Linked DNA regions of Homo sapiens. The protein of the gene in region 1 interacts with the protein of each later gene in a pairwise test. Each region holds a gene or a part of one and is shown in the gene's direction. Other genes may lie near its edges.

Region 1 (3,060 bases):
CTAACCATCAAACCCTGTGTAGGGCTAGATATCTCAATGTAGTCCCTGTACTTAGTCCCAAAGGCTAGTTGGGCTAGAGGGAAACAAATTCTTCTGGACCACGGTTCACAATGAAGAACTGGAAAAAGACAGACAGGCTCAAACCATAGGGCCAAGAATCCTTGTCTCAGGCCTTTGGGTGAAGGTAGGGGTAGGGGGTGCAGGCTGGATCCTCATGTAAGGTATAAAGAAGTCAGTTGGTCCAGAGCCCGGGCCTCAGGTCTCCAGTTTGAAGCCTTTCATGTCTCTCTCCTTCCTCACAGGTGCCCTTTGGGGAAGTAAGCATGGTCCGGGACTGGTTGGGCATTGTGGGGCCTGTGCTGACCCCTCCCCAAGAGCATCCTAAACGACCAGTGCTGGGACTGGAGTGCCCACAGTCAGAAGTGAGTGGTGCCCGATTCTGGGGCTTTTTCCGGAACCTCTGTGGACAGCCTGAGGTCTTCTTCCATCACTGTTTTGTCCACAATCTATGCCCTCTGCTTTTCCTGGCTCCCAGCGGGCGCAACCTTACTCCTGCTGAGCTGCCTGCCAAGCAGCGAGAACAGCTTCTTGGGATCTGTGATGCAGCCCTCTGCCGGCAGGTGCAGCTGCTGGGGGTGCGGCTGGTGGTGGGAGTTGGGCGACTGGCAGAGCAGCGGGCACGACGGGCTCTGGCAGGCCTGATGCCAGAGGTCCAGGTGGAAGGGCTCCTGCATCCCTCTCCCCGTAACCCACAGGCCAACAAGGGCTGGGAGGCAGTGGCCAAGGAAAGATTGAATGAGCTGGGGCTGCTGCCACTGCTGTTGAAATGAGTGCCCTTGGGGCCTTGCATGGGACACATTCAAGACCTCGAAGTCATTCTTGGCCAAGCAGATGACAACACATCTCCTGGACTGGAGCAAAAGGTCCTTCTGTGCACCCTGGTCGCTGGGAAACGTATTCTTTGATCTGTTGAACTGTCTTCCAACCTGCCATGGCAGTTTTGACACTACTCCTGTTTGCCCTCCTGATTCCTGCTTTCTTTACCTTTTAACATTGCCCCTTTCAGGGGACCCCACTTTGTAGGGAATCTGCAGAAGGTGTGCTTTTGCACTTGCAGACTGCTCTACCTCAGTGTTTCCTTGGGAGACTTTATTCAGCTGAGAGTGCCCTAGACAGTAACTTCTAAGGTCACGTTTACTATTTCAGAGGAAATATCTTGCCAGGATACCTACCCATCCTTATAGAACAGTTACCTTTAGCTGACCCCTTTCCTCACAGGGACCAAGACAAAGCATGGGACATGAAATTAAGAGTGAACTTCTTATGGGAGGCTGCAGCTGGATCAGAGGAAAAATCCAGTGTGACAGAGTGCAAGTCAGAAGACCTGGCTTTTCATCCCAGCTTTGAAACTTGGAACTTTTTGATTGACAAATTAATAAACCTCTCTATGCCTCAGGCTCCTCATCTGTAAAACAGGGATGCCTACCTTATGGGGTTGGTGTGAGGATTAACTGAGATCACACTTGAAAGTGCCTTGCATGGGCTTGGCATGTGGGTGCTCATTACATAGTCTTCTTGTTTTCTTGCCTCTGGGTTGAGGATTCACAGCACTGCACTACAAGGGTAGCCCCTCTCCATTCTGGATACCTTGCTAGGAGAGAGTCTGGGCTTCCACCTGCGGCCAGGGTGAAGGGAAAATTCTTGCCATGTCAGAGATGGATCAATGACTATGAAAAAACTAGCCTGTGATTTTTTTTCACTCTAAGCATTAAGAGCTCCTAAAGCCTTTTGTCTTGTTACTTTTTTCCCCCTCTTGCATGCTAGAGGTGGAAGGTAGTCATTTAGATTTCCCCCCTCTTCCCTCTTCATTGTTGGCCAGGGGTTCTCTTGGGCAGCTGGGGGAAGGATGTAGTAGATCTCTCTTTTTTTTTTTTTTTTGAGATGGAGTCTCATGCTGTTGCCCAGGCTGGAGTGCAGTGGCATGGTCTCAGTTCACTGCAACATCTGCTTTCCCGGTTCAAGTGATTCTCCTGCCTCAGCCTCCTGTATAGCTGGAATTACAGGCATGTGCCACCACGCCTGGCTAATTTTTGTATTTTTATTAAAGACAGTGTTTCACCATGTTGGCCAGGCTGGTCTCAAACTCCTGACTTCAAGTAATCCACCTGTCTTGGCCTCCCAAAGTGCTGCTGCCTGGCTGGATGTAGCAGATCTCCAATTGCCTTACCAAACCTGCAGGGTCTCTGTTAAGTGTCTGTTAGGGGTCTTATATGATACTCTGGACACCGTGAGAAACAGGTGATGGGGCAGATGGGAACCTGGTATCCAACTCATTTTTTATGTCTGCTGAATGGTTGACTGGGTGCCCCTTTGGTAAGGGCTGGGAAAGTGAACCAAGTTGGGAGCAGAGCAGGTCTTGAGACCACCTTAATGAGGAACACATGGTCTACTTCCTATCTCCTGGGACACAGGTCATTTCCAGCTTCCAGAATTAGTAAGATTTTTCATATAAATCCTCCCCTACTTCATTGTATAATAAAGAATTTGGCCTTTGTCTTCAGTTCCTGAGAAGGAGACTCTAAATCCTTGGAATTTCCCAAGTAATAGGAGTATCTTTGTTTTTCGTGGCAGGTCCCTGAAACTACACCTGAATTTATGTTGAGATTTGACCTTAGGCTGCACCTAATTTTATATTGAATTTGATCTCAGACCACACCTGAGTTTGCTGTAAGATTTGACTGAGGATGGAGGCTGACCATGCCAGAATGACCAACCATATAGTTACAGGGCTGGGACTTTGAGCTGGATGATACCAGCTTGATCCCCAGGGAGGGGAGAGGGGCTAGAGATTGAGTTCAGCCACATGCCGATGATTTTAACCAATTATATCTATGGTAAAACTCTAGATATAAAAACTTCTGACACAGGTTTTGGTCAGCTTCCTGGCTGGTGAACACATGGATGTGCTGAGGGATGTGCATTGGTATCCTGTTTCTATGAGCAGAGGGCACACATCTGTGCCTGGGACACTCCTGGACCCTACCATATATTTGTCTTCAT
Region 2 (3,500 bases), on another chromosome or scaffold:
TATCTATAAGGACAATTATTATTTTAACACTTTTGTATTAACATTTGATCAGTCTTTTTGTATTGCTCATTTTTATATGAAATTAGTTTTTCTTAACTTGAAAAGAGGGCTGACAGGACAGTTTTTCCAATTTCATGGCTCTAGAGTTCCCTTTTCTGTTGTTTTTGTGAAGTGTTTAAAATACACAGAACTCATTTTCTGATATATTCTGGTCTATTAAACCTCTTAACTTTCATCTGCAGTCCTTTTTTTTTTTTGTCTCTGTTGTCTTTGTTGCATTCAACTTGGATTATTTTCCCAGCATCTTATCAGTATGGGGCTTTGTCCATGGAAGGGAGTTTTGGCCATTTGGTTTTAAGAGTTTATTTTCAGCCCTATAAGATCTTACTGCAAACTACTTGCATCACCCACTTTTGGGATGATCTCAATCTGTTGTTTTCAGCTAGACTTATTAAGCAATGAAGTCAGTATCTATGGATGGCTTTAACATTCATGGGTTCATCATATACCCTGTTGCTTCTCTCTGCTTTTTCTTTCACAGGCGCTGAAAGCATGCTGCTCTTATAGCTGTTGGTATTGGTGGGACTACCTTATCACCTAGTGTTGTTTTAGATGCAGTCTGTGGGTTTGGGTATTGCTGTCCTAGTAGCTCTGGTATGCTTTTATTATGTGTGTATTCAGTTTAAAAAATTATGCCATTACCATCTTCCCAGAATCCCCAATCTTAATATTTGTATTATTTTCTACATGTCATCTCTAGATCCTCAGACAGATTCTAAGCCTCCTGAGGGATTGTTAGGATTCCACACAGACTGGCTGACATTAAATGTTGGAGGGCGGTACTTTACAACTACACGGTAGGTGTGTGTGTATGTGTGTTAGAAAGAGAATGCAAAAGAAGCACTGTGTACCCTTTGTTCTTCAATTTGCTGATTTCCTTAAAAGATACTCAAATGCTGCTTAAATATACTATGTGATCTGAAACCATTTTTTATAACTTTTTTTGAAGAAAAAAACATGGTTCACTCCAGAGAAAGCATAAAAGGCATCACTTCAGTGTTTTAGAACATGCTTTTGGCTGGGCGCGGTGGCTCACGCCTGTAATCCCAGCACTTTGGGAGGCCGAGGCGGGCGGATCACGAGGTCAGGAGATCGAGACCATCCCGGCTAAAATGGTGAAACCCCGTCTCTACTAAAAATACAAAAAATTAGCCGGGCGTAGTGGCGGGCGCCTGTAGTCCCAGCTACTTGGGAGGCTGAGGCAGGAGAATGGCGTGAACCCGGGAGGCGGAGCTTGCAGTGAGCCGAGATCCTGCCACTGCACTCCAGCCTGGGTGACAGAGTGAGACTCCTTCTCAAAAAAAAAAAAAAAAACATGCTTTTTAGATATTGAGTAATAAACACACAATATAAGTAAAAATTAACACTACTGAAATTTGTGGAGACTACAACTGCTTTTATTAAAGGGCAGAAAAATGTAAGTTTGGAAGATCAAGAATATTATTATGTAATAATTTGCTTACAGGATAGACAGACAAGTATTTAAAGCAAAGGAAACTAAAACAATGTTTAAATCAAAGGAAGTACCCTATTAGAAGGGATCTGATAAATGGCAACTTACTGCACGTTTTTGTTTCCCAGCGTTACTCCTACCAGGTTGTAGCATGCATCTTTTTGAGAGAGCAGCTGGGATCGAGTATACTCTTGACTTAAATATGTTTGTTTATAAAGACAAATGGAGAAATCAATTTTTTTCCCTGAATTCTTAGGAGCACTTTAGTGAATAAAGAACCTGACAGTATGCTGGCCCACATGTTTAAGGACAAAGGTGAGTGTAACACGTTGTTTTCACATTTCATCTTACCTGTTTTATATCTGTGCTGACTTTATAACTCCTGACCTTCTGTACTTACTAATTATGTCAGTTTTTAAGAGTAAAAACTTATATTTAGCAATTTTTTCCTCATACATTTCTGACTTTATTTTTTGTTTATGGGGGACTTTCTTTATTATAATGGTGACACAGGTGTCTGGGGAAATAAGCAAGATCATAGAGGAGCTTTCTTAATTGACCGAAGTCCTGAGTACTTCGAACCCATTTTGAACTACTTGCGTCATGGACAGCTCATTGTAAATGATGGCATTAATTTATTGGGTGAGTTTATTTAGACTTTCAATATAATTATGTAACTACTCACATTTTTGTAAGTTTAAGATTTTAACTTTGTTTCACTCAGTAACAGTATATTTCCATAAAGTAAAAGTATATATTTTTTCTATTTTTTAAACTAGATGTTTTCACATGTATATGAGTGATATAGGTGTAGAAATAGATTTAGGCACGGGCAGGTGGTCCTTCAGGTAGATAGTCTTTGTACATATAGCTAAATATGTAAGCCATACGCATCAACTTTATATTCTAAATTGATTTACGTTCTATCACAAGTGACTTTAAAGGATTTTGTTGTTTCCTTTTTTAAAAATTGAATTAAGAATGTAACTTGGCTCCAAGTTCTGGATATTCCCCACATTATGTGAGAACTAGAGTAGTCAAGAGGGCAAATCATGCCTTGCAATCATAATTCTCAATTAGAGTCTTGATTCTACAACTTGCTAACTTAGGGAGACTAACTTGGGGAAATTTCTCTGAGTCATATTGGAAAAATGAGTGTTAAAAGCACTCTTGACCCTATCTACATCACAAGATTTTTGTGAAGATTCACGGAGGTGATGTAGACAAAGCCCTTATAAAACACTGGTTGCATATTTGGAAGCTAATAGGCCTCCAAGTGACTGAAGTTGATGTGATGTTAGTACTTGAGGAATGGTAGGCAGTTGGCAATCTTGAGGTCACATGCCTGTCAGCTTCAGCAGATCATTGCCATGTGCAAAGTGGTCAGACGTAGAGTGCCAGAACCTTGGTTTTTAAAGAAAACCTGGGTATCTAAAATTTTATGTGACATGTTTTTGTTTTGAAAACATTACATGCTGAACACATCAGAATCAGCCTGAGGACTGCTGGCTTACAGTTTCTGTAGTGAAATACAAAACACCCATTAACTTTTAGTGTTGCTATAACAAACTTTATATTCCCTTGAACATGTACCTATTGCAAAAAAAAAAAAAAAAGATATTATTTGACCCTTTTAGCTAGTTCTATAACTTTATAACTAAATTCTTGTTGCTTTCTATTTCTCCCATTTTAATTTTTCTTCAAATTATTGATAGCATTTTGTATCCCACTTGCCTAGAAAATGTCAGAAATATATTTATCCATGCTGTGTCACACATCTGCAAACCAAGCTATTACCAAGATTTGCTAGTTTTTTCTTTTTCATGTTTCTCAACCATTTATTTGTTCAAGTGTTCAAAAAGCAGAGCTCTCTGCTGGATTCATTTTATAAAGCATTGTTTTCAGTTAGTACAGTTTCCATCCAAACTCTTTACATTGCCTACAGGTTGCCCCAAGTAATTATATGCTTTAAAACAATCTACAGTAA
Region 3 (3,500 bases), on another chromosome or scaffold:
ATTAAATTAGTATTAAGTTCTTTTTTAAAAGTCCTGGTTGAACTAAGATTGTAGGCAGACATTACTGTCACATGTGGTGCAGTCTGTTGACTTTTATATATTTTTTAAAACCTTCAAATGTAAAATCTTGAGATAAAAGCAAATGTTTAACAATTGGGATTTTTATTAGAGTTTAATACAAATAATGCATAGTTTTTCTAAGTGTACGTTTTACATATTCTCAAAGGGTTCTATTAGATATAAGTAACATGATGAAAACTGAACATGATTTTAGACGTTGATATCTAGTAGGGTTTTTTGTTTATGGAGATCTTATATTTTACATTGTGAGCTATGGATTAGGTTTTTCAAGTGGCCAGTATGTTTTAAAAGAATGTGTTCTTAACAAAGCTTATCTTAAATTGTTTCCTTAAGATGCCTGTGTGTTACTAGTGAGGTTTTTTTCCTGCAGACACACACAAGCTAAGACATATGGTTCTATCTTCAGAAAACAATATGGTGTTTAGAGCCTAGGTAGGTCTTTAAATATTCATTACCTACAGTATTACTAATTTATTTGATGGTATTTAAAGTGGCAAGAATTGCTTTGATGTTGAGCCTAAATTTCTATTTGTCATATAGTTGCTTTAAAGGTCTGTTTTCTGATGTTCTTCATTCTCATTTGACATTTATTTTGGGGTATTATGCATTGAGTAACTTGTGATCTAAAAAAACAAACAAGATCATGCTGTGTAATACTGGTGTTGGAACTGGACTGTCTGACACCTGCCTTGTGGGACACACATTTCAGGCTTGGGTTGTGTGTATCTTTGTAGTGCAGTGATTTGATCCATGGTATATCTGAATCTACAATATGACACTAAATTGTAATAGTGTTTTATTGTAGCTTATTTTATTTTCTTCATCTATCGGATGCACCAAAATTGCTAGGAATTCGTGTAATACCATGTTACACAATCCCTTCCTTTAAGGCTATTCTTTCTTCCTGGAAATAAGCTAATGATTTAGAGTATAATCTGAACATCTAAGAACAAAGCAGAAGAAAATTCTATAAACTATTACAAAATTGACTGGCTATACCATGGATTTGGCTATACTGTGGCTATAATCAAGCCCCTCATTCAAATTCAACTTAATCATATTCTTTGTTTCTTTAAAGTAAGAGAGAGAGAGTGAGTGTGTGTGTGTGTGTGTGTGTGTGAGAATATCTCATATATATAGTTGGTCAATTTAGTTGTACCTCCTGCAGCTATCTTCCATCATGCCTCCTTCCTAAAATGAAATACTGTACCGACAAATTGAACAATTAATTAGAGATCTATTGAAGGATATTATTGCAAAATCTCTTCTTGTATAGGACTTGTCAAGAACAAAAGCAAAACTATTATGGAAATTTAGCTATAGTTTTTTGTGTGAAAGTGCTGATAATTTCAGCCTTGGTAGGGCTACTCTTTTCAGAGTGAGAGCACATTCAGTGTTGAAAAAGTGTCATTAGTCTTCTGAAAGGCATGATATTCTTAACTTAAAATTCTGCCCAGTCGGACACAGGAAGTAGTTTGGCAATGTGAATTTCTGCCTACTGTGAAACTGCTAAGTTTTTAGCCCCAAATTGGATTTTAACCCTGATATTAGAGATAAAGGTGTCATTTTCAGTTTTTAATGCTTCAGTTCCTACAGTTCCTGTTCTTAGAAGACAAAATAGACTCTAAGGTATGCCTCTTCTGAATTTTTTCGTTGAGTTAAAAATCATTTTGGAATTTCCTAAGTGTTTACTCTTTGAATTGACCTCTCAATACAAAAATTAGAGCCATTTATCTTTTTTCTGTTATTTTGTGTATGTTCTTTAGGTAGCAATTATATATTTAAAGACTTGGATCTTTAGCTTGACTATTTCATAACCAGAGCAGAAAGAAAGTGAAGTGTAGAAGCTATAATTTGGAACGAATAAAGATGTCATTTCAATGAACTACCAAGAGATGATCTTACTAGGTCAGGCATTGAACTTTGTCTTAAATATTTTTGTTAGTATTTACTTTGGGACAGATTATTTTATGATACTGTAAAAGTACTTAAAATAGAATAGTACAGTATTTTAAAAGCTATACAATACGTCTCTCAAGTGTTATGATGCACGAAGGCAAATGTAAATGAAGAGGCAATCTGAAATTTGGGTACAAGAACTCAGTAAAAGAAAAGGCAGTCTGAAATTTGGGTAAAGTTTAGGTGAAATTATATAGTGAATCATGGCCTTTTAATCCTGGTAAATTAAGATATTGTATGTGTTGTTATGGAAGGCCTTTCATGTTAGTTTTTGAAATTTAGTTTGCTGCTTAACATTTAACTTTTAGTGGAGATAATTTGAAAAATAGGAAACCTTAATACTGGATTTTTAAATAAATATTTCATGACATTCTAAACTTAGATATTAACGTTTTCATCTTTGCTTTCAGTGCTAGAAATGTAAATTAATATATCTAAATATGCCTCTAGAAATTCTTCAAGATCTGTAACTGGCGGGAAATAGGTTGACTTAGAATAAAGATTTTTTTTTTTTTTTCAGATGGAGTTTCGCTCTTGTTGCCCAGGCTGGAGTGCCATGGCGCGATCTCAGCCCACTGCAACCTCCACCTCCCGGGTTCAAGTGATTCTCCTGCCTCAGCCTCCCCCAAGTAGCTGGGATTACAGGTGCCCGCCACCATGCCTGGCTAATTTTTTGTGTTTTTAGTAGAGACGGGGTTTCACCATGTTGGCCAGGCTGGTCTTGAACTCCTGACCTCAAGTGATCCACCTGCCTCGGCTTCCCAGAGTGTTAGGATTACAGGTGTGAGCCACCACACCTGGTGGAATAAAGATCTTATTAAGCAGTGACGGCTTTTTTTGTGACTATTAGATATAGAAGGTAACTAATTCCAATACAGTTTTTCCTGAAGAAATTGATGTTTAAACAGTAATGGAAATTTAAAACTATTTAAATCATTTAAAATGTGTTATATTAAAATGATAATTCTATTTTAATTTTGTTATTAGCTAGCTTCAATATGTGAAAACCAGTTTTATCCATCCTTCTTTTCTCTTAGAAGTGAGCTAACTAGCCCTTTAGGCAAGGAGCATAATGTTTAGAAGCTCAAGATCACTTGTTCGTTTCTTTCTTTCTTTCTTTCTTTCTTTCTTTCTTTCTTTCTTTCTTTCTTTCTTTCTTTCTCTCTTTCTCTCTGTCTCTCTCTCTTTCTCTCTTTCTTTTTTATTTATTTTTTTGAGATGGAGTCTCACTCTGTCGCCCAGGTTGGAGTGCAATGGTGCAATCTCGGCTCACTGCAACCTCTGCCTCCCAGGTTCAAGCGATTCTCCTGCCTCGGCCTCCCGAGTAGCTGGGATTATAGGTGCGCGCCACCATGCCCGGCTAATTTTTGTATTTTTTGTGGAGACAGGGTTTCACCATGTTGGTCAGGCTGGTCTCAAACTCCTGACCTCATGATCCGCCTGCCATAGCCTCCCAAAGT
Region 4 (3,500 bases), on another chromosome or scaffold:
TGCTGCAGTGGGAGCAGGGGTGGGTGACACCCACTAGGGAGGTGCTTTCAAACTCCTACTGCTCCAAGGAGCAAGCTAGAAAATCCCACTTCTCAGGCCCCTTCCACTAGGACACACTATGAGCTTAACACTGCTAAGAACTCACTGAGGAATGGTGACATTTGGGGGCGGCTCCTTCAGTGCTTTGTTTGGCTTCTTTTTTAAATTATAAATGGTGGTTTGAAAGTTGTTGGAGGGGAAAATCAGATGAAATCAGGGATGTGGCTGAAGCAGTCAGTGTAGCAGTGTAGCAGAGAAGCAGAGAAGCTGTCAGCAGCCTACCCAGGCCCCGAAATGGGCACAGCCCTGCATTTCTGGCCTGAGGCTTGCCGAGGTCTTAGGTGAACTTCAGCTCTTTCTACAGCACCCCAGTCTCAGCACTCTTTGGTGGATGTCCTGATTGGCTGGGAGATTGTTGCTTCCTGATACAGTGGTGATTACTTCTGAAAGATGGGGTAATACCAACAGCTATCGTTTCTGACCATTTACTGTGCAGCATCACTGTGCAAAGTATTTTTATACATATCCTATTGACTCCTCTCAAAACTCCTGTGAGGCAAGCAGGCACCCCAGTGGCCTCATCCTAGTTCTGGCCCTGGTGACATTATGATTGCCTCCATCCTCCATTTGATAGGTACAGAAACTGAGGTTCAGAGAAGTGAAGTAAATTCCCCCAGATCACGCAGCTAGCAAACAGCTGAGCTTCTATGCTCATCCTAAGGCTCGGTTGAAATGGATTTTTTAAAAGATGTATTTTGGGCTCTTTACTATATAGAAAACCGAATCTGTTTATCACTAAGGTTACTAATAGGCCTTACATCTGTGAAAACTTATCTGTCAGCTGGCCCTGAAATGTTCTGAAATGAGTCTGAGCACAGGATGCCTGTGACAACCGAATAGTTTAAAAAAATTCTCCATGGGAGCCGAAACCCTATTAAGACAGGTCTTTATTTTTGTTCCTGAATGCCACATTTAGAAACAAAATGTCATATTTTTGTATATGAATGTCACAAGTGACAAAGCATATGTTGCAACTTGGCTTCTAATGGTTGAAAAAAAAAGAGAGGTAAATTATCATAATGTTGGGATCTTCTCAATTATATTTGCATTTTCATTTCTATCAGAAGTCCATTTTAGCAAAGGAATGTAACCTTAGTCACTTGAAACTGCTGTTCCCTTAGAAAACAATTGTAAATGTAATAAGCAAAAAGGATAGAAAATGCCCACAGGGGAAAAAAATGATCCATCTGGGGTCAGAGCCATCGTGTAGATTGATTCATTCTTCTTCTAGCATTCTTATTCAGGAAGGAAAACTTGAACATTTTCTAGATTTTAGGATATTTAAGATTTGCAAGGAATTGGGGGAAAGGGAAAAGGAATGAAATTTCAGTCCCACTGGCAGGGATCAAATAGAGATTTTCTCAACTTTTAAAAGAACCGTTTTACATGTCCCAATCACCTCATAGTTCCTGAGTCTCTCTTCTGCATAAGGCATGTACTAGTTGTTAAGGGAGGATACAATAAGGTCATGATTGCTTTAAAATTATTCATAATAAAAACACATTTTGAGACTTGATTCTAAATGTTAAACTTAAATTTGAGCAATTTAATTGCCCGTTGAATAGGAATGAAATCCCACCGGTAGGCAGTTATTTCTTACAACCACTGTGTGTGAAATTGAAATCTTAAGATACCATTTCAAATATTCACCTTCTCTAAGGAAGTTCTCCCCAAAGAGTTGTGAAAGATAAGAAACTGACCCAAAGTCATATGCAGTAATCTCTTTTTCTTTACACACTCAGGTCAAAGTAGAAGCATATTATTAAAAAGAAACGTTATGCCCTGAATTTGGCTGTTCTGAGGTTACCTCTTGGAACCCAAGGATATATTTAATTTAAAAACTGACTTGAGCCCCATGCAAAACTGTGACAAGGAAAGTAATAATTTATCAGATTAAATAAAAACAAGCAGATGTGGCCAGGCGCGGTGGCTCATGCCTGCAATCCCAGCACTGTGGGAGGCTGAGGCAGATGGACCGCCTGAGGTCAGGAGTTTCAGACCAGCCTGGCCAACATGGTGAAACCCCGTCTCTACTAAAAATACAAAAAATTAGCTAGGCGTGGTGGCGAGCGCCTGTAATCCCAGCTACTCGGGAGGCTGAGGCAGGGAAAATCGCTTGAACCCAGGAGGCAGAGGTTGCAGTGAGCTGAGATCGCACCATTGCACTCCAGCCTGGGTATCAGAGCGAGACTCCATCTCAAAAAACAAACAAACAAACAAATAACACCCAAGCAGATGCAAACAGGTCATTTAGTCACCACGATAATGAACGTTAAAATGGAAAACACTTACATGTTTTATTTAGGAGAAGAAGGGGGTGAGGTGAAGGAATCCTGTTTCCTGCTTTTAAAAAACAGGAAATAGTTTCCAAATTTGGGTGGGCAATTCTTATTTTAAACCCCCATTTCACCTTTAAATTTAATTTCAAGCTCTTTTAAAATTATCTTAATGATGCCCTTTACTATAACATAGCAGCTGCCATTTATGAGTGCTTACTATATACCAGTTGCTTTTCATGCAAGCAACTTCATATCTGTTATTACCCCCATGCCATTACAAATCTATGTGCCACCCTTTTGTGCACTAACTCATATAATCCCCACAATAACTTAGGCAATAGGTTCTGTCGTCTCCATTTTACAGATGAGGATACTGGGAGTTTATTTGTTTGTTTGTTTATTTATTTTGAGACGGAGTCTCACTCTGTCACCCAGGCTGGAGTGCAATGGCGCGATCTCTGCTCACTGCAACCTCTGCCTCCTGGGTTCAAGTGATTCTCCTGCCTCAGCCTCCCGAGTAGCTGGGGTTACAGGCATGTGCCACCACACCTGGCTAATTTTTGTATTTTTAGTAGAGATGGGGTTTCACCATGTTGGGCAGGCTGGTCATGAACTCCTGACCTCAAGTGATCCACCCGCCTCGGCCTCTCAAAGTGCTGGGATCGCCTCGGCCTCTCAAAGTGCTGGGATTACAGGTGTGGGCCACCGAGCCCGGCCAGGATACTGGGAGTTTAAATTCCTGCTGTGAGCCCAGGTTGACACAGCTGGTCAAGGATGGGTTAGAATCCAGGTAGTCTGACTCCAGAGCTACTACCGCATACTGCCTCCTCAGATTAAATAATTTTCCTAGGACATGCTAACTGATAAGTAAGAGTCTAAATCAAACCCAGGCAGTTGGGTTCCAAAATTCCAGCGTTTAACCACCACATTGACTGGTTATAAGTAGGTAAACTGTTCATCACAACCTATATATTTATTTTCATTTCTGTTAGAAATGAAAGTAGTGTGGTAGGTTACATATTTATCACATAGTTTAGGCTTGCCTAAATTCTAAGTATTTTCTTTTTTAAATTAAAAACAAGGGTCTATCGGAAAAAAAAAAACCCAACTTTTTTTTTTTTT
Region 5 (2,655 bases), on another chromosome or scaffold:
AGAGATTACCTTCTCCTTCTGCCGTCTGTTTGAGAAGCGCCCAGCCCAATTTCTGCCTGAGATGGTTGCTGCTATGAAGGGCAACTCCACACTGAAGGGCCTCCGGCTGCCAGGGAACCGCCTGGGTGGGGGCCAGACCCTGGGGAGGGAGAGGGGAAAGGAGCTAGGCCTTTGACCTAAAAACTCACTGGATAAAGGCAAAGACCTCTCCACTGGGAACGTGGGAGTTGGAATACAGATATTTCTGTGCTGGGGCTTCAGGAACCAGCAGGGCTGGTTCTGCCAGCCATAGTTGGGTTGGGATACCCTTGTCCCCTGTTCTTGGGTGGAGGTGATAGGCGTTCTCCCCTTCTCTCCAGGGAATGCTGGCCTGCTGGCCTTGGCAGATGTTTTCTCAGAGGATTCATCCTCCTCTCTCTGTCAGCTGGACATCAGGTACATGAGGGGAGGGGCAAGACAAGGGATGGGGCTACAGAGATATAGACCAGGAATTCACTGCTTCCTGGATATCTAATCCATCTCACCCTACCAGTTCCAACTGCATCAAGCCAGATGGGCTTCTGGAGTTCGCCAAGCGGCTGGAGCGCTGGGGCCGTGGAGCCTTTGGTCACCTGCGCCTCTTCCAAAACTGGCTGGACCAGGATGCAGTCACAGCCAGGGAAGCCATCCGGCGGCTCCGGGCTACCTGCCATGTGGTTAGCGACTCATGGGACTCATCCCAGGCCTTCGCAGATTATGTTAGCACCATGTGATGGGGCCCGTACCTCACAGTCTCATGCTCGGTACCATCAGCTTGCAGGGGCTGAAGCATGGGCTGCCCAGAACCCCAACCACCAGTTCTATCTTTCTCTTTCTGTCACCTTTTTTCTCTTTTTTCCTTCTTCCCTTGCACTGAGGTCCTGGAGGCCTTGATGAGGCCCAGCAAACAGGCATTCTCACAGCTGGGTTTATAGTCTTTGGGCCCCTTACTCAGTATCCTGGGAACCCTGGGCCAGGAGGTTACAGTGGTCATCATAATTGCTGAAGAGATCCCCTCCCCTGCCCCTGGGTTCCTGCCTTCCCTCCTCAAGCAGGCACCCAGGCTTTAGAGAAGTATAGGGGGCTTCTTCCCTGCTGGGCTTACCACACTGCTCTCAGGCCTCAAACCCTTTCATACCTTTATTCTTTTTTTTAACCAAAAAAGTTTTTCTTATAAAATAAATTTTGGGCAAACATCATGCAGCCCTTCTTGATGATTTTCTCCCAGAGAACAAAATTCAACAGGGCCCTGTGGAGCAAGGAGCCCCTTTTCCCTATCTCCTTCCTCTAAGAGCTACACCCAGACCAGCTGGTTATCAGCGGAGGCCCCGCTGCTCCTCATGAGAACGCTGGTGGAAGACGAAGGTGATGGCAGTGGAGGCAGCATCCCAGGCAGCCTGGAGTACCTCATCCCGGAGCCCCCACTTATCAGTGCAGTGGTTCCACCCTGCCAGGTCTGAAGTGCAGTCAGAACCATCAGGGGGTGGCCGGATCTGACGGCTGTTGACACAACGTCGGCAGTGCAACCTAGGGACAGAAGGCACAGCTGAAGTCACTACAGATCCCATCTCCCTACTGTGTGGGTAGCTTAGAGATAATGGTTAGGGCACTTCCCCACCTGTCATGTGTGTCACTGAGGCTAGCTTCATCCAGGATAAACAGCTCCTTCAACTCGCCCAGAGAGAAGTGGCGCTCTACATCCTGCTCCTCATCCACCACACAGCTGCTCAGTGCCTTCTTGTGGCTCTGACGCTGGAAGATCTTCTCCTCAATGGTCCCTGCCTGGGGAAGAGGAGGTGGGGAATGTCAAAAGATACAGCGCTTAGCCATCCTCATAAAAAGGGAGCAGGAAAACCAAAGGGTTGAAACTACAGCTACCCGAGAAGAGGAGATGAATAAAAAGTATGAGTCCCAGAACATTATCTCTACTCAGCTGAGGTCCATTTTCCCAGTCTGTCTCCTGAGAACATGACATGAATAGTCTGCCCACCCAGGCTACTTTCTATACTAATGAAGGGTCCCAGGGCCTGGCTAAATCCCGTCAGGGTGAACTGAGGTTTGTCTGCTGCAGCTTCAGATTTCTGCACCAAGCCCAACTCTAACTCATTCAATAAATATCATTTAGGTATCTATTCTATTCCAGACCCTGTGCTGACATTAGCATACAAAAAAGAATCATATATATCCCCTATCCTTTAGCTCCTAGACAAACATTTAAACAGTTGATACAATGATAGAAATCTATACAGGGTAACTGCGAGTCCATAAGGATGGTAGAGTAGAACAGTATTGAAAACTTGAAACTCTATCCTTGAGCTCAATCTTGAAAATGAGTAGATGGTTTGTAAGAAAAGACACAAAGAAAGGTATTCCCAGCATAGGAACAAAGGAATACTACTGGCCTATTGGAGGACTGTGAGTAGTTCAGGCTAACTGGAGGTTGGTGGGAGTATAGTAAGAGCTGAGACTGGGAAGTCAGCAGAGGCCACATTAAAGAACCTTGGGGACAGGCACGGTGGCTCACGCCTGTAATCCCTGCAATTTTGGAGGCCGAGGCAGGCAGATCACAAAGTCAGGAGTTCGAGACCAGCCTGACCAACATGGCAAAACCCTGTCTCTACTAAAAATACAAAAATT
Region 6 (3,500 bases), on another chromosome or scaffold:
AATCTTTCCAGTAAAGGCAGGGAGAATGTGTTATAGGTGAGCTCACTGACCAAGATCTGGTACTTTGTCTCTCTTTTAAAGCCCCAGGTACCCAGTTTGTTAAGCCGACAGTTGGAGTTCCACAAGTGTTCTCCCAGATGACCCCTGTGAGGCCAGGCTCCACAATGCCTGTGAGGCCCACCACCAACACCTTCACCACCGTCATCCCGGCCACTCTTACCATTCGAAGCACCGTCCCACAGTCCCAGTCCCAGCAGACCAAGTCCACTCCCAGCACTTCTACCACTCCCACTGCCACACAGCCAACCTCACTGGGGCAACTAGCTGTTCAGTCTCCAGGCCAGTCAAACCAGACCACGAATCCCAAGCTAGGTAAGGCTTCGGAAGAGGAGATGGCAGAGCCAGGTTGGGATGGTGGGTGGAGAACAGATGATTATCACTTGGTCACCGTAGCTCCCTCCTTCCCCTCTCCACCTGCAGTGAGCATTGCCAGCTTTGTCACTGTGAAGCGACCTGGTGTTACAGGCGAAAATAGCAATGAAGTGGCCAAATTGGTGAATACCCTTAACACCATCCCTTCCCTGGGCCAGAGTCCTGGGCCAGTGGTGGTGTCCAACAACAGCTCTGCTCATGGCTCTCAAAGAACCAGCGGACCTGAGTCTTCAATGAAAGGTACAATAACCTGAAAGACTCTGAGCAGCCAGTCATTCAAAAACATTAATAAAGTGTTTGTTGTATCAGAGCTTTATACTCAGAAATAGAAAAATAAAATAAAATACAGCTGCTGTAGTTTGTTCTTACAGAAACTTTAGTAAGGAGAAAGCCACTTACAAAAAGTGTAACTGAATCAGCTCCAAGAAATTATGTGTGTAATTGTGCTTTGGAGATTAGTGAAATTGATTGATTAAAGATGGGTGAGATAATGAAAGATAACTTCATGGAAGAGATGGATTTCTGAGCAAGGTTTTAAAGTTAGGATTTGGTAGAGAGATCTTCAGGTTGAGAATGATGAGCATGAGGGTTTTCAGTGGTCTAGAGCAGGGGTCGGCAAATGTTTTCTGTAAAGGGCCTAGTAGTAAAGTTGTAGGCTTTGTGCACAATATATAGCCTCTGTTGCAGCTATTAACTGTGCTGTTGTGGTGGGGAAGCAGCCACAGATACATAAACGAATGAGCATGGCTGTGCTCCACTAAAAACTATTTATGGACTCTGAAATTTAAGTTTCATAAAATTTTCATGTGTCGAAAAGTTTTATTCTTTTATTTCAACCATTTAAAAATAAAAACCGCAAGGTATAGTGGCTCACACCTCATCCCAGCATTATGGGAGGCCAAGACGGGAGGATCACTTGAGCCTAGGAGTTTGAGACCAGCCTGGGCAACATGGTGAGATCCCATCTCTACAAAAAAAAAAAAAAAAAAGATTAGCCAGGCGTGGTGGTGTATGTCTGCAGTCCTCGCTACTCAGAAGTCTGAGGTGAGAGGATGGCTTGGGCTTGAACCCAGAAGGTTGAGCCTGCAGTGAGCCATGAGCATGCCACTGCAACAGAACGACACCCTGTCTCAAAAAAAGTAAAAACCTTTAAAACATGGTGTTGGGAAAACTAGATATCCATGTCCAAAAGAAGTTGGATCTTACCTTACAATAAATACAAAAATTAACTCAAAATGGATCAAAGACCTAAATGAACTAAAACTATAAGACTCTTAGAAAAATTATAGGACAAAAAGCTTCATGATACTGGATTTGACAGTGATTACTATTTCTTGGATATGACACCAAAAGCATACGCAAGAAAAGAAAAAATGAGTAAATTAAATTATATCAAAATTTAAAACTTTTGTGCAGGACGTTGTCAACACAGTGAAAAGGGAAGCCACAGAATGGGAGAAAATATTTGCAAATTATGTATCTAATAAGGGGTTAATATCCAGAATATATAAAGAATTTGTGCAGTTCAACAACAAAAAAACTCCCAAACAACCTTTTTAAAAAATAGACAAAGGACTCGCTGGTCGTGGTGGTTCATGCCTGTAATCCCAGCACTTTGAGAGGCCAAGGCAGGTGGATCACGAGGTCAGGAGTCCAAGACCAGCCTGACCAATAATGGTGAAACCCCGTCTATACTAAAAATACAAAAATTAGCCAGGCGTGGTGGTGTGTGCCTGTATTCCCAGCTGCTCGGGAGGCTGAGACACAAGAATTGCTTGAACCTGGAAGGCAGAGGTTGTGGTGAGTCGAGATTGTGCCACTGCACTCCAGTCTGGGCAACAGAGAAAGACCCCATCTCAAAAAAAAAAAAAAAAGTAGGAAAGTAGGCAAAGGACTGAATAGACCTTTCTCCAAAGAAAGTTATTGCCAATAAGCTCATGAAAAGGTGCTCAGTGTTATTAATCATTATGGAAATGCAAATCAAAACCACAATGAGGTACCGTCTCACTCCCATTAGGATGGCTACTATCAAAGAACCATAAAATAACAAATATTGTTGAGGATGTGGAGAAAGCAGAACCCTTACGCACTGTTGGTGGAAATGTAAAATTATGCAGCCACTTTGGAAACAGTATGGTGGTTCCTCAAAAAGTTAAAAATGATAGAATTGTTGTATGCTCCAGGAATTCCATTCTATACCCAAAAGAATTGAAAGCAGGGACTAGAACAGGTATTTGTACACCTATGTTCATTGCAACATTATTCACAATAGCTGAAAGGTGAAAGCAACACAGAGGTCCATCAACTGATAAAGGGATAAATAAAATGTGGTATTCACATACAATGGTATATTGTTCAGGCTTAAGAAAGGAAATTCTGCTACAACATGTGCTGCAACATGGTTGAACCTTGAGGACATTATGTTAAAGTGAAATAGGCTAGTCACAAAAGGACAAGTACCATATGATTCCACTTACTTGAGGTACCTAGAGTAGTCAAATTCATAGAGACAAAGTTGAATTGTGGTTGCCGGGGTGGAGGCGAGGGGAGAATGGTGAGGAGGTTTTTATTGGATATAGCTTCAGTTCTGCAAGATTAAAAAAAACAAAAACCTTAACAAAAAAATCACATACAAATTATTCTTAGCTTATGGGCCAAACAGAAACTGGTAGCTGGGCTGGATTTGATCTGTGTGCTGTGGTTTGCTGACCCCTGGCCTAGAGTTAGAACAGTAAAAGGAAGCCTCAAACATAGTGATCTTGAGCCCAGGGAGGTCAAGGCTGCAGTGAGCTGTGGTCGTGCCACTGCACTCCAGCCTGGGCAACAGACTGAGAGACCGTGTCTCAAAAAAAACAAAAACAAACAAAAACCATAGTGATCTCTCATGCTTGCTTACCCTTTTATATACTTCTCAGGGAGTGTTTGACTTTTTCCCAAAAGGTCAGTAATCTTTTTCCAGTGTCATTGTATTAATCTTATCAATTCTTCTCACTTCTTTCAGTGACCTCTTCCATCCCAGTATTTGACCTCCAGGATGGTGGACGGAAAATATGTCCACGATGTAATGC
Region 7 (3,500 bases), on another chromosome or scaffold:
TTCTTTTTCTTATGTTTCAAATATTTATTGGGGGTGCTGGGGACATGGCAGGAACCGAGATATTACCAGTCCCTGAACTCAGGTAACTGATAGAATTTGAGGGAGAGAGATAGATAAACAAACATATAAATATGTCGTTTAATACAAGCTGTGTCTTGAAGAAAAGGAGGTAGGGAGCGTGTGTGTGTGTGTGTAAAATCCAGTTTAGGGGCGTAGGTTGCTTTCTCTGGGGAAAGTAGCTGAGCTGAGACGTGGAGGAGAAGGGGTTAGCTGGTGAGAGGGGCTTTGGGGTGGGGGAGAGGCGTTCCTAGCCCAGGAAACGGCTTATGCAAATAGCTGTGGAGGGTGAGAGGTTTTCTGAGTCCATCCTAATGAGGGCAATGAGGAACCCTCAGAGGGTTTTCATGTTCTGTTTGCTTTTTTGAAGATTTTATTGTTGTTTTTGCTTTTGACAAGAACACACACACACACACACACACACACACACACACACACACACACACACAATTAAAAAGTAATCCAAACTATAGAGACAAGATATGGCTTTAGCATTCCTTCCCAGAGGCAGTCACTGGTGCCAGTAGCTTGCTTCCTTCCTGGGAATTTTCTACGCATATACAAGTGTATATTCTACACATGAGTAAAATCAATGCCTCATTTTGTTTATTAATTCATAATTATAATACTTATTATTTTTGAGATGGAGTCTCACTCTGCCTCCCAGGCTGGAGTGCACTGGCATAATCTCGGCTCACTGCAACCTCCACCTCCCAGGTTCCAGAGGGTCTCCTGCCTCCGCTTCCCAAGTAGCTGGGATTACAGGCATGCACCACCATGCCTGGCTAATTTTTGTATTTTTATTTTATTGTATTTTTATTTTTAAATTTACTTTATTATTATGACTCTTTTTTTGAGATGGAGTTTCGCTCTTGTTGCCCAGGCTGGAGTGCAATGGCGTGATCTCGGCTCACTGCAACCTCTGCCTCCCGGGTTCAAGTGATTCTCCTGCCTCAGCCTCTGGAGTAGCTGGGATTACAGGCGCCCACCACCACGCCTGCCTAATTTTGTATTTTTAGTAGAGACAGGGTTTTGCCATGTTGGCCAGGCTGGTCTTGAACTCTTGACCTCAGGTGATCCATCTGCCTCGGCCTCCCAAAGTGCTGGCATTACAGGCGTGAGCAACTGCACCTGGCCTATTTATTGTTATTATTGAGACAAGGTCTTCCTCTATTGCCTAGGCTGGTGTGCGGTGGCATGCTCATAGCTCACTGCAGTCTCCAAATCCTGGGCTCCAGTGATCCTCCTGCCTCAGCCTCCTGAGTAGCTGAGACTACAGGTGCGGACCACCATGCCTGACCAATTTTTGTATTTTTTTTTTTGTGGAGACAGCGTTTTGCCATGTTACCCAGGCTGGTCTCGAACTCCTGGGCTCAAGCAATCTGCCCACCTTGACCTCCCAAAGTGCTGAGATTATAGGTGTGAGACACAGCACCTGGCCATCTGCATTGTTTTAAAAATCACAAATGGTTGCGAGGTATACATACTGCCCAGCACCATACTTGTTTCCTTTGAATATATAAATATTATAATTTTATAATATTTATAATATATAATAACACAAATAATAATAAATATATATGGTTTGGTCATATACAATATATAAAATAACATTCACAAACACTTATTGTCAAAGTGCAATTAAATGGGAAAAAAAGAAAAACATTTGGCCAGGTGTGGTGGCTCATGTCTGTAGTCCTAGCACTTTGGGAGGCTGAGGTGGGAAGATCACTTGAGCCCAGGAGTTGGAGGCTGCAGTGAGCTATGGCAACGCCGCTGCACTCCGGCCTGGATGACAGAGGGAGACCTTGTCTCTTAAAAAACCCCAAAAAACAAATCTGATTCTCTGACGCATATATAATAAGCACAGGTCAAAGATTTATTTAAGTCATGAATGAAGGAACCAGCTGTTTCAAAGGAGAATTTGGGCCGGGTGCAGTGGCTCACGCCTGTAATCCCAGCACTTTGGGAGGCTGAGGTGGGTGGATCACGAGGTCAAGAGATTGAGACCATCCTGGCCAACATGGTGAAACCCCGACTCTACTAAAAATACAAAAATTAGCTGGGCGTGGTGGCGGGTGCCTGAGGTCAGGAGTTCGAGACCAGCTTGGCTAACAATGGTGAAACCTTGTCTTTACTAAGAATACAAAAAATTAGCTGGGTGTGGTGGCTCATGCCTGTAATCCCAGCTACTTGGGAAGCTGAGGCAGGAGAATAACTTGAACCCAGGAGGTGGAGTTTGCAGCAAGCCGAGATTGTGCCACTGCACTCCAGCCTGGGCGACAGAACAAGACTCCATTAAAAAAAAAAAAAAGGAGAATTTGATGAACAGAAGTTGATAGGTTTAGTCAGGAAAGACGGGCTGGAGAAAATTTGCCAGGTTAGATACAAAACTGGTTAAAGACCTACAGGACAATACAACTGTAACCTTTGAGGTTACCTTTTCTACCAGAGAGAAATCATTTGCAACCAAACTTCCTGGGGTTACCATTTACCTTGTCGAAGTCTAGACTCTAATCAATAATGAATAACAGACCGGGTGTAGTGGCTGACGCCTGTAATCCCAGCACTTTGGGAAGCCGAGGCAGGCGGATCACGAGGTCAGGAGTTCGAGACCAGCCTGGCCAACATGGTGAAACCCCGTCTCTACTAAAAATACAAAAATTAGCCGGGCATGGTGGCGCATGCCTGTAATCCCAGCTCCTCAGGAGGCTGAGGCAGGAGAATCGCTTGAACCCAGGAGGCAGAAGTTGCAGTGAGCCGAGATCGCGCCACTGCACTTTAGCCTGGGCGACAGAGCAAGACTCTGTCTCAAAAAAAAAAAAAAAAAAAAAGAATAGTAAATCAAATACAGGTACAGTCCCTTAGAATAGGGTCCCCAACCCCCGGTTTGTAGTCTGTTAGGCATGGGGTTGCACAGCTGGTGAGCAAGCATTACTGCCTGAGCCCCGCCTCCTGTCAGATCAGCGGTGGCTCTAGACTCTCACAGGAACGTGAACCCTATTGTGAACTGCACGTGCGAGAGATCTAGGTTGTACACTCCTTATGAAAATCTAAGGCACTGCCCACTCCCATCCATGGAAAAATTATCTTCTACGAAACCAGTTTTTGGTGCCAAAAAGGTTGAGGACTGCTGCCTTGGAATATGAAGCAAACTTTGGGTGGGTCTGTTAGACAAGACTCCCAGATGACTTGGAAATGGCATGCTGTCAGCTTTTTTTGTCTTATTGCCGAGCCTAGAACTTTTTTTAATTTTTATTTTTTTTGAGATGAAGTCTTGCTCTTGTCTCCCAGGCTGGAGTGCAGTGGCACGATCTGGGCTCACTGCAACCTCTGCCTCCCGGGCTCAAGCGATTCTCCTGCCTCAGCCTCCAGAGTAGCTGGGATTACAGGCGCCTGCCACCACGCCCGGATAATTTTTGTATTTTAGTTGAGACGTTTCA

Evidence for each region.
Region 2: the proteins of SMUG1 (region 1) and KCTD9 interact in binary tests that used the Homo sapiens proteins (3 or more experiments, as listed by UniProt).
Region 3: the proteins of SMUG1 (region 1) and TIAL1 interact in binary tests that used the Homo sapiens proteins (3 or more experiments, as listed by UniProt).
Region 4: the proteins of SMUG1 (region 1) and LMO2 interact in binary tests that used the Homo sapiens proteins (3 or more experiments, as listed by UniProt).
Region 5: the proteins of SMUG1 (region 1) and LRRC41 interact in binary tests that used the Homo sapiens proteins (3 or more experiments, as listed by UniProt).
Region 6: the proteins of SMUG1 (region 1) and POGZ interact in binary tests that used the Homo sapiens proteins (3 or more experiments, as listed by UniProt).
Region 7: the proteins of SMUG1 (region 1) and CRX interact in binary tests that used the Homo sapiens proteins (3 or more experiments, as listed by UniProt).

What each region holds. Positions count from the first base shown.
Region 1 is NC_000012.12:54,179,866-54,182,925, reverse strand, and holds the end of SMUG1 (single-strand selective monofunctional uracil DNA glycosylase), read left to right. Parts: intron 1-302; coding exon 303-830; 3' UTR 831-1,278; coding exon of another isoform or gene 1,279-1,407; 3' UTR 1,408-2,560; downstream 2,561-3,060.
Region 2 is NC_000008.11:25,437,934-25,441,433, reverse strand, and holds part of KCTD9 (BTB/POZ domain-containing protein KCTD9), read left to right. Parts: intron 1-760; coding exon 761-857; intron 858-1,641; exon of another isoform or gene 1,642-1,769; coding exon 1,770-1,828; intron 1,829-2,026; coding exon 2,027-2,155; intron 2,156-3,500. UniProt on the Homo sapiens protein: Substrate-specific adapter of a BCR (BTB-CUL3-RBX1) E3 ubiquitin-protein ligase complex, which mediates the ubiquitination of target proteins, leading to their degradation by the proteasome.
Region 3 is NC_000010.11:119,590,465-119,593,964, reverse strand, and holds part of TIAL1 (nucleolysin TIAR), read left to right. Parts: intron 1-445; exon of another isoform or gene 446-513; intron 514-1,847; exon of another isoform or gene 1,848-1,989; intron 1,990-3,500. UniProt on the Homo sapiens protein: RNA-binding protein involved in alternative pre-RNA splicing and in cytoplasmic stress granules formation. Shows a preference for uridine-rich RNAs.
Region 4 is NC_000011.10:33,871,577-33,875,076, reverse strand, and holds part of LMO2 (rhombotin-2), read left to right. Parts: intron 1-3,500. UniProt on the Homo sapiens protein: Acts with TAL1/SCL to regulate red blood cell development. Also acts with LDB1 to maintain erythroid precursors in an immature state.
Region 5 is NC_000001.11:46,276,962-46,279,616, reverse strand, and holds the end of LRRC41 (leucine-rich repeat-containing protein 41), read left to right. Parts: intron 1-2; coding exon 3-125; coding exon of another isoform or gene 126-175; exon of another isoform or gene 176-353; intron 354-359; coding exon 360-435; intron 436-532; coding exon 533-752; 3' UTR 753-1,334; coding exon of another isoform or gene 1,335-1,545; 3' UTR 1,546-1,636; coding exon of another isoform or gene 1,637-1,800; 3' UTR 1,801-2,155; downstream 2,156-2,655. Other genes in the region: RAD54L (DNA repair and recombination protein RAD54-like), read right to left, coding at 1,335-1,545, 1,637-1,800. UniProt on the Homo sapiens protein: Probable substrate recognition component of an ECS (Elongin BC-CUL2/5-SOCS-box protein) E3 ubiquitin ligase complex which mediates the ubiquitination and subsequent proteasomal degradation of target proteins.
Region 6 is NC_000001.11:151,424,995-151,428,494, reverse strand, and holds part of POGZ (pogo transposable element with ZNF domain), read left to right. Parts: intron 1-81; coding exon 82-372; intron 373-453; coding exon 454-672; intron 673-3,433; coding exon 3,434-3,500. UniProt on the Homo sapiens protein: Plays a role in mitotic cell cycle progression and is involved in kinetochore assembly and mitotic sister chromatid cohesion.
Region 7 is NC_000019.10:47,828,437-47,831,936, forward strand, and holds part of CRX (cone-rod homeobox protein), read left to right. Parts: intron 1-3,500. UniProt on the Homo sapiens protein: Transcription factor that binds and transactivates the sequence 5'-TAATC[CA]-3' which is found upstream of several photoreceptor-specific genes, including the opsin genes.